Linked DNA regions of Homo sapiens: region 1 is linked to region 2. A link means that fine-mapping ties the variant in region 2 to the expression of a gene that starts in the linked region. Tissue or cell type: whole blood. Region 2 holds a variant in brackets; the other region holds the start of a gene. All regions are shown on one strand. Distances are from middle to middle.

The links. PIP is the estimated chance that this variant, and not a neighbour inherited with it, causes the effect.
Region 1: it holds the start of MMAB, and the variant in region 2 is fine-mapped to the expression of MMAB in whole blood (TOPMed, PIP above 0.99).

The regions. Positions count from the first base shown.
Region 1 is chr12:109,571,443-109,575,833 of GRCh38, reverse strand. It overlaps MMAB (metabolism of cobalamin associated B), which reads left to right and starts at 2,330. Exons shown (of 9, transcript NM_052845.4): 1 at 2,330-2,487; 2 at 4,124-4,185. The coding sequence starts at 2,354. MVK (mevalonate kinase) reads right to left here and starts at 2,040. Exons shown (of 11, transcript NM_000431.4): 1 at 1,961-2,040; 2 at 934-1,025. The coding sequence starts at 1,011. RefSeq lists silencers at 1,800-2,029, 2,050-2,179 and enhancers at 1,939-2,438, 2,439-2,940.
Region 2 is chr12:109,507,248-109,511,638 of GRCh38, reverse strand. UBE3B (ubiquitin protein ligase E3B) reads right to left here. Exons shown (of 28, transcript NM_130466.4): 15 at 3,904-4,075; 16 at 1,925-2,043; 17 at 1,181-1,295; 18 at 336-435. Among named protein-coding and RNA genes, the nearest start is that of UBE3B, 32 kb to the right of the region's middle. The variant G/A (reference allele first, on the strand shown) is at 2,213.

The DNA of each region.
Region 1 (4,391 bases), 64 kb before region 2:
ACAGCCACCATCGATCAGCTAAAAGTTAAAATCCACTTTGCCTTCTGCCTGCAAAATTTCAGAGGTTCTCAATACCAAGGAATCACTTCCCCATAATCACCATGTTTTCAATGAGAAATATAAGAACATAAAGAATAGCAGTGAGAAGCCAGGTGTGGTGGCTCATATCTGTAATCCCAGCACTTTGGGAGGCCAAGGCAAGAGGATCACTTGAGCCCAGGAGTTTGAGACCAGCGTAGTGTCAGACCACGTCTCTACAGAAAAATAAAAGAAAAAAATTAGTGGGGCATGGTGGTACACACCTGTGGTCCCAGCTACTTGGGAGGCTGAGGTTGGAGGCTGCAGTGAGCCATGATCGCAAGATTGCACTCCGGTGACAGAGCAAGACTGTCTCAGGAAAAAAAAAAAAAAGCAGAGTGCAGCAGAGGTGGTTTCAGACAGACTTAGGTTCACACCAAGCTCTACCAAGGTATATAGGACTTGGATCAAGTTACCACTTCTCTCCTAAGCCTCAGTTTGCACATTTGTAAAATAGGATAATAAAAGGGTATGCCTTGGGGGTAGCTGTAAGGGTAAAATGAGATAATGGATGTTTTCAACTCCTTTGCTAGATCATCCTTCCAACTTCTAAATGTCTTAGTGCCCCGGAGCTCAGTTCTCAAACCTCTTTCCTTCTGCATCAAAGCTCACTCCTAGGTGATCTCATTCCACTCACAGGGCTTTATATTATAATCATCTTTTTGCTATCATACCGAGCGAGGCCCAAGAATCCCTTCAGTGGGCATAAGAAATCTTTTCCTTGCCTGGCTGGGGAGAACCTGATCTCTCTGATCTGCTCCCAAGCTGTGCCTCAGGGTGTCCTTTTACCTTCTTACAAAATTAGCATCAGGGAGAAGGGGTACCCAATCCTTAAAGGCTCTAACGGCTTTGTACCTTGCCATGTACCACGGCATGTTCTCCATGAAGGATGACTTTCCCCGGAGCAGACACCAGTAGGACTTCTGACAACATGGCTCCTGGGAATCCTAAAAGGGAAAGCCAATGAGAAGAGCAAAGATCTCTAGATGTCAGAACCAGCAGGAAGAGATCTTAGAACACCTAGTTCAAGCCCATCATAATAACAAAAAAGGTAGTTACCGTCCAGCACTTGCTACGTACCAGAAAGGCAATGCAGGAGTCAACTGGACACATCCAACAGATCTGGGTTCAAATGCCAGCTCTTCCACTCCCCAGTGATGTCATCTTAGTTAACTCACTTAAATGGCTAAGAACCTCGGTTTCCCCACACGTTATATGGAGAGAAAATAACCGTACCTACCTCGGTGGATGTTAGGAAGGTTAAATTAACGCAAGGGAAACACTTGGCGGTGTCTGGCACCTACTAATCATTCAATTACTGAGAGCTACTTATTACTGGCTCTGTTCTTCGTTTCAGCTTTTACAACTACTACTATTAAAGGTAGAAATTACATGAAATCATGGAGCAGAAAGAACTCTTTGCTGGACATTTAGGCTGTTTCCAATGTGTCACAATTATAAACAAGGCTGCAGAAAACACCCAGTACGCCTCGTTTTGCACACTTAAATGAGTATTTCTGCAGGACAGAGTCCTAGAAAGGAGCTTGCAGGGTCTATAGGTGTGTGCAATTTACACTTTTATACATAACGCAAAATTATCCTCCGCTTAAGGCTTTACGTAGATTACCTTACGCTAAGATTCAGGTGTACTATGAGCTAAGTACTATCGTGATCCCCATTTCTTAGAAAAACTGAGGCTCAGAGCGGGGAATCCCCTTGCTTGTCAAGCTCAAAATCACGACTGTCAGATTGAGGTCGCCGATCCCTCGGGGCAAGACTCTCAGAGCTGGGTAAACTGAGCCACAGAAGCTGGACGCCTGGCTCAGCGTCGTCCTGGGTCTAGGACCTCGCGCCGCCCGGCCGCCCGACCCCGGCCTCTCACCTGCCGCCGCCGCCGCCTCCCCGGCCGCCGCCCCTCCGCGCCGAAGCCGGAGCAGCTCCCCAACTCCCACAACCCAGAGCGCCCGTGCCTCAAGGGGAGGAGGCGTTGTACTTCAGGCCAGCCAATCAGAGCGCGCGAGCCCGGAGTACCTTTACCAATAGGCTTGAACATTGGTCAATAGGTGTTGCAGCCAAGCCGACACGGGTTTTCCCGCCCCGCTCCTTCCGTTAAACCAATGGGAAACAAGTCCCTGGGAGTGTCCCGCCCTGGGGTGAGAACTGCGAACCAATAAAAATTGAAACCTGAGCGGTGGCGCGGCCAGCTGTGGGTGGAGTCACCCCGCGGACTGGACGGGAACCTGGCGGGGTCAGGTCCCGTCAAGCAGCCTGGCTCATGGCTGTGTGCGGCCTGGGGAGCCGTCTTGGCCTGGGGAGCCGTCTTGGCCTGCGCGGGTGCTTCGGCGCCGCCAGGCTCCTGTATCCCCGTTTCCAGAGCCGCGGCCCTCAGGGCGTGGAAGACGGGGACAGGTGAGTGGCTGGCGGGAAGGGCAACTCGAACACCTGCCGTGAATCGTGGTGTCGTCGCCATGGGTACGTCACACCGCCGTGAGGTCACCGCGGCAACCGTCAGGTGACGTCTCCACGCTGTTCTGACGTCACCATGGCAACGTGGGCCACGTGGGCGCCAGAGACCAGGTAGTCTTTGCCTAAGTCCCAATGAAGTCCCGCTATCATCGGGCAGGGCAGGGCATATCCCATGTGGGCCAGGAGGGCTCTCGACTCAGATTGTGACCAATCTCCAAAGCAGTTTATTCCCCAGGTCCCAGATACACCAGCACCTTCTAAAGATGGCTTTCCTCATATTCCTTGAAACTTGCACCTCAACCCAGACCTCAGAACCTCTAGAGTACCGTGGATTAATAATGGATTAATTTAGTTCACAGATCCAGGAAATTAACCTTCGAATGGGCTTGTAATGTCACATTTTAATTTTGAGCTATGTCCTTGAGTTGTTTACATTGTTTTTTGAAAATGCCACTTTTTGAGCTGTATTTTGGCAATTCTTCATCTCTGAGTACACTCGAAGCCTCATACTATGGAAGTGGCTCAGGTTTCTTTTCCTGCAAGAGGCCCTGAGTTGGTGGAGTATAAGATAAAAATTTGGGTAGGATAGAGTTAAGAGTCCTAGCTACTTGGGAGGCTGAGGCAGAGGATCACTTGAGCTCAGGAGTTCAAGGCTGCAGTGAGCTATGATCATGCCACTGCACTGCATTCCAGCTTAGGCAACAGAGCAAGACCCTGTCTGTGAACAAAATAATCATAGGCCAGATACGGTGGCTCACGCCTGTAATCACAACACTTTGGGAGTTTGAGGCAGGAGTATTGCTTGAGCTCAGGAGTTCAAAACCAGCCTGAGCAACATGGTGAAACCCGTCTCTACCAAAAAAAAAAAAAAAAAAAAATTAGCTGGGTGTGGTGGTATACACCCGTGCTCCCAGCTGCTCGGGAGGCTGAGGTGGGAGGATTGTTTGAGCCTGGGAGGCAGAGGTTGCAGTGAGCCTAGATCGTGCAACTGCATTTCAGCCTGGGTGACAGAGTGAGACCCCATCTCAAAATAATAATAATAATAATAAATAAATAAATAATTTCGGTAGGATAGAAGTTACAGTTTGTGCTCTGGTCTAGGACAGTTTTGGGCATCCCACTCCTGCCTCTTCTTGGATGGTCTAGGAAGGTGTCTCATCTGAGCCATAGTTTCCTCCTCAGTAAAATGAAGAGAATAGGTGTTGGCTACCTTTGGGGTTGTGGAAAGATTCCAGGATAATTCCAGAAGATAATGCCTGTAAACTACTTGGCACAGTGCAGGGACAATGGCAAAGGATCAATCAAGTCCTTCAGCAAATATTTATTGAGCATCTTTGTTGAGCAAGGCATTACATCAGCTACTCTACACACTCTGTCATCCAGCTCTGGTCTTGCCCACAAAATGTTTGCTATTAGAAAGGATCTAGGGGAAAGAAATCAACAAGAGATGACCATCTAAGCAGTAAGGGGTAAGTGCTGCCTCTGAGGTTACAAGCAGCAAGCTGGGACCCTCTGAAGGAGCTGACCCTCTGTGTAAGCCATCCCCACTCACCAGATACTGATGTTTATTTCTCATTAGGCCACAGCCTTCCTCGAAGACACCCAGGATCCCCAAGATTTACACCAAAACGGGAGACAAAGGTAGGGTGGGGACAGGTGAAAAATGCAAAGAAATACTCATGGCATACACCATTTTAAAGTTCTTCCAAATTCTTTGCAGCCACTTTAAAGTATAATATACCAGGCGCGGTGGCTCATGCCTGTAATCCCGGCACTTTGGGAGGCCCTGTTGGGCTAATCATCTGAGGCCAGGAATTTGAGACTAGCCTGGCCAATGTGGTGAAACC
Region 2 (4,391 bases):
TCTCCAAAAGCACCTCATCCTTTCTAACTCAGCCTTTCAACACTGTCCACTTTTGCCCGTGGGACCCTTTCCTGTCCCCTTTCCCTCCCTCCAGCTGGTCAGGTCTCCGTACCTGGGCTGCCACTCCACCAGCATCGCCAGTTCACACTGTCTTCTCCAGCTCTGTACCCCAGCACTGGGTGTAACCTCACCAAAGTAATAGCAACCACCGTTTCCTTGTGCTGAATGAATGATCCCACTTAGTCACCTCCAATTGCCATAGCAAGGATGGAAAGGCAGGAACCACGTGGGGGAATAGAAAGACACATCGGGGCCCAGCTCTGAGTGCAACTCACGTTTTTGTGAGGGATGACATGTGGGATGTACTGCAGGATCAACTGTGCCCGTTTTCTGTCCCTGTCGAGTTCTTGGAAGAGCACGCTAGGTTTGAGATCCCTTGAGAAGAAAGACATGGGTTTGGGAGAATTAAAAGAAGGAAACCATCCTCTAGTGTGAGGCTGGGAAATGACACCATGTGGGCCACATGCAGGGTGCTGTCTGTTTCTCAAGAGTCTGATGGGAACATGACCATACTCATTCATACATGTATAGCCTATGGCAGCTTTTGTGCTACAAGAGCAGAGTTGAGTAGCTACAACAGAGACTGTCTGGTCCACAAAGCCTAAAGTCATCTGGCCCTTTACAGAAGTTTGCCAGTCCCTGCTCTAGTGCCACAGCTTCAGCAGTTGCCATAAAGCTTGAACTCATTGATAAAAATGCAGATACATGCCTATGTTCAGTTGTGATAGGAGGATTTCCCCCACCCCATTACTCTCCAAAAAACCTAAAAGCAGTTTTTACTCTAGTAATTCTGCTAATAAAAACTGCCTTTTAACTCTCATGCTCTGTTGCTCAGCTCAGCTAAAAGACCTCTTCCTAGTTTGGATGAGAAATGTATGCTAAATATAATCTGGCTCTGTTGCCATTAATTAACTCTAATCATATTTGGTGTAAACATCTCTTAACAGAAGCGTCCTGACAGGTGCTTCACAGGGACAGCAGCTCTCTTTACACAAATGAACAGACAAAATGAAGCAGAGGGAAAAAGTCCTCTCTGCCCTAGAACATGAGAGCTGAGTGCTCGGGCAGCGTGCCGGAGCAGGCTGGCTTCCATGGAGCCCTCCTCACCCCTGGAGCTCACTTTCGCAGCCAGTGGTCCTCGGGGGTGAAGCGCCGCCGGCAGTCCCGCTCGTACAGCACCATAAGCCACCCGTGGACAGACTGGAACAGCTCCAAGGTCTCACCCTTGGCGTTCTCTGTGGGACAAACAAACAGGAAAGTCAGAGGAGGAGTCAGAGCCAGAGAGCAAGGGGAGGACAGCTCTTGTCTTCCGCAGTTGTCATCAAGTCCTTGATCTCCCTCGCTCTGAATTATATGTGGAACCGACAGAATTAAAAGGCACCCTGGGTAAGTGCTAAGTGTCTGCAGGGCCTGAGTACCTCTCAGACAAAATCACTCATGCTGCCTCCCACTAGTGTGTCATCCGAAGGGCCTTTTAAGTCTAAGGAGCTTTGTCCTGAGCAATTGGAGACACTTCGGGAGGTGGACTCTCATCTCAAGTGTGCACTGGCACATGTTTTATCTTCACGGAAATCAAATGGAAGAATCAACAGGAGATTCAGGGCAAAATTAATCATCATTAATAATCCTCGACACATACATGCAAATCCTGAAGGGAGCCTGGGAGAGCAAGACTTCTATAACCACACCACTATCTTAAGAAGTCACAGAGAGTGAAGAAAGAAAATTTCCAATTGTGGGAATAAATGTGCACCTTCTATTAACTTGGAGAGACAATAAAGCTAAGAATCAGTTGATGCCATAGACTCTTCGGCCTCCCTGGGTGCAGCATCAACCAAACAACAGCAGACACCTTTTCTCTTACCTACAATTCCATCCCAGATCATCTTAAACACAAAAGAATTCAGGAAAGAGGAGATAGTGACCAGCTCTTCCAGTTTGAATGAAATCTGTTCTTCATAAACTTCAATGTCATCAAGGATTCTAAATCAGAGAGAAAATTACCCACAATTCCACACTGAAAAAAGGCGAAGAGAAAAAAAATCTGTACTGCTTACTAGACAATAAACGAGGTTGAGAAATAAGCTTTATCTTGTAGAGATACTTACTGTAAAATCTACAGATAAAATGATATGATATCATCAGGGGTAGG[G/A]GGAAAGGGGAGGGAGAGCCTTAGGACAAATACCTAATGCATGTAGAGCTTAAAACCTAGATGACGGGGTGACAGGTGCAGCAAACCACCACAGCACATGTATACCTATGTAACAAACCTGCACTTTCAGCACATGTATCCTAGAACTTAAAGTAAAATAAAATAAAAATAAAATGAAAAAAATGATATGATGTCTAGGATTTGCTTCAAAATAATGTGGGAGAGAAAAGCAGGTGGGCATTTGGATGAAGCAAAACTGGCTGTGAGGTGGTACTGTTGAAGCTGATAATGGGCACATGAGGGTTCATTATATTATCCTTTCTACTTTCTATTAATTTGAAATCGACCATAGTAAAAAGTTAAAAAATACAATTAAGAAAAAATCTGTACTCTATATTTTTCTTATTCATAAGGATCTGACTGTGACACTTTCTTAATTCACACCTCAATTCACGCCTTCCTTATTCATGTCTGCATATCAAGGAACATTGACTGAGAGTCGATGTTTACTGAGGAAAGCTGCAGAATCTTTTCGATATCTAAGACACATACTAGTGACACTTAGCAGGTACTTAGTAAGCATTTGTGAGTAAATGAATAAATGTTTGAAAGAACATATGAATAAATGAGCCATTTAAGACACAGCTCTATCTGAACATTTCCTAACACTGCTCCATACACTAGAATAAGATTCACTCTTGGCTTACCCCCATCCAGTGATTAAGGATGTCTTCACCAGCAGCTAGACCCCTGCTCTTGCCTCCAACTGCTCAGTGAGTTCTTCCATGATCCTCACCCAATCTGCCACCTACATGTCCCTGATCCTCTCCGGCTAAAGTCTTCCAGCCTGAACATAACTGCCTGAGGTCCATTGTATCTTATAATTCTTCACCAACCTTTTGGGAAAAGGTGGAATGAAAAGAATACCAAACACACAAGATGCATAAGCTTAAAAACCAAAGGAACTAAATGGGACTAATGTTTGTTAATTTCCCACTCTGTGCCAGGCACTGCACTAAGTATTTGACGCTGTTTTTTTCACTTACCCTCTATTGAACTGGTAATATTCTCTTCATTCTAATGAGGAAATAGAGACTCAAAGAGGTTAAGAAACTTGCTCAGGGTCGGCTTGATAATAATAAGAGCCAACAAGTACTGAACTCATCCTATGTGCCAGGGACTGTGATAAGCACTTTGCAATAATTATGTCTTTTAATCCCTACCATGTGCCTAAAAGGTATGTGCTATTGTCATTCCCATTTACAGATGAGTCAACTGAGTCTCAGAGAGGTTGAATCCGTGATCCCTTGCCCAGGGTGTCTCAAGATCTGCTTAGCAAGGATCTGCACCCTGGCTCTGACTTTGGAATTTTCCAGGAATCTAGCTAGCACAGTGAATAAATGGCTGAGCCATGATCTAAACCCATCTCCAGGAGACCCCAAGCCACAGCCAGTGGTACTGATCAGCTTCCTTGAAAGGATGGGAACTTTTAACTCCCAGGCCCCACCCTAACAACTGCTGAACATTTACTGCACACTGCTCACTTGGTAAATGGCTAGTTCTTACAATGCCCTGCCACACAGGTCCAAATGTTTGCAGTAATCACATTAGCAATTACTTCCTTACTGACACTGTATTTTGGTCTCTCCATATTCTAGGAAAGGAATTCAGTCCCACAGCAGTCAACCTACGTGATGAGGTGCCGCGAACAGTCACAGAACAGCATCAGCATGGCCAAGAGTTGCTTGGACTCTTCAGTGTCATTGTTCAGGCATTCCAAGAAGAGCTTTAACCCTCCGTGGGGCCCGAGCTCACAGATAAATGCCCACAGTTTGGGAAGCAGGTCATCAAGGTAAGTGAGACCTGGAAAAAACACAGAGAAACCCAAGCTTCAGGTGGAGACTCCACCTGGTCTGTTATTTCTCCTATCCAGTGGGGAAACAAAACACTTAAACCTATCCATGAACATTTAATGTGCGTGAAAAGAAGGTGGGATTATGGAGAAAAGCATTATCACCACGAGAGTAACAATGATAAGAGCCAGTAGTCAGTGGGTGCTGACTATGTGCCAGGCACCATTCTAAGCACTCCGTATGTATTGTTTGCTTTCCATTTTCTGAAGCCCAGTGTTATCCCCATCTTATACAGGAGGAAACTGAAGCACAGAAAGGTTAAATAA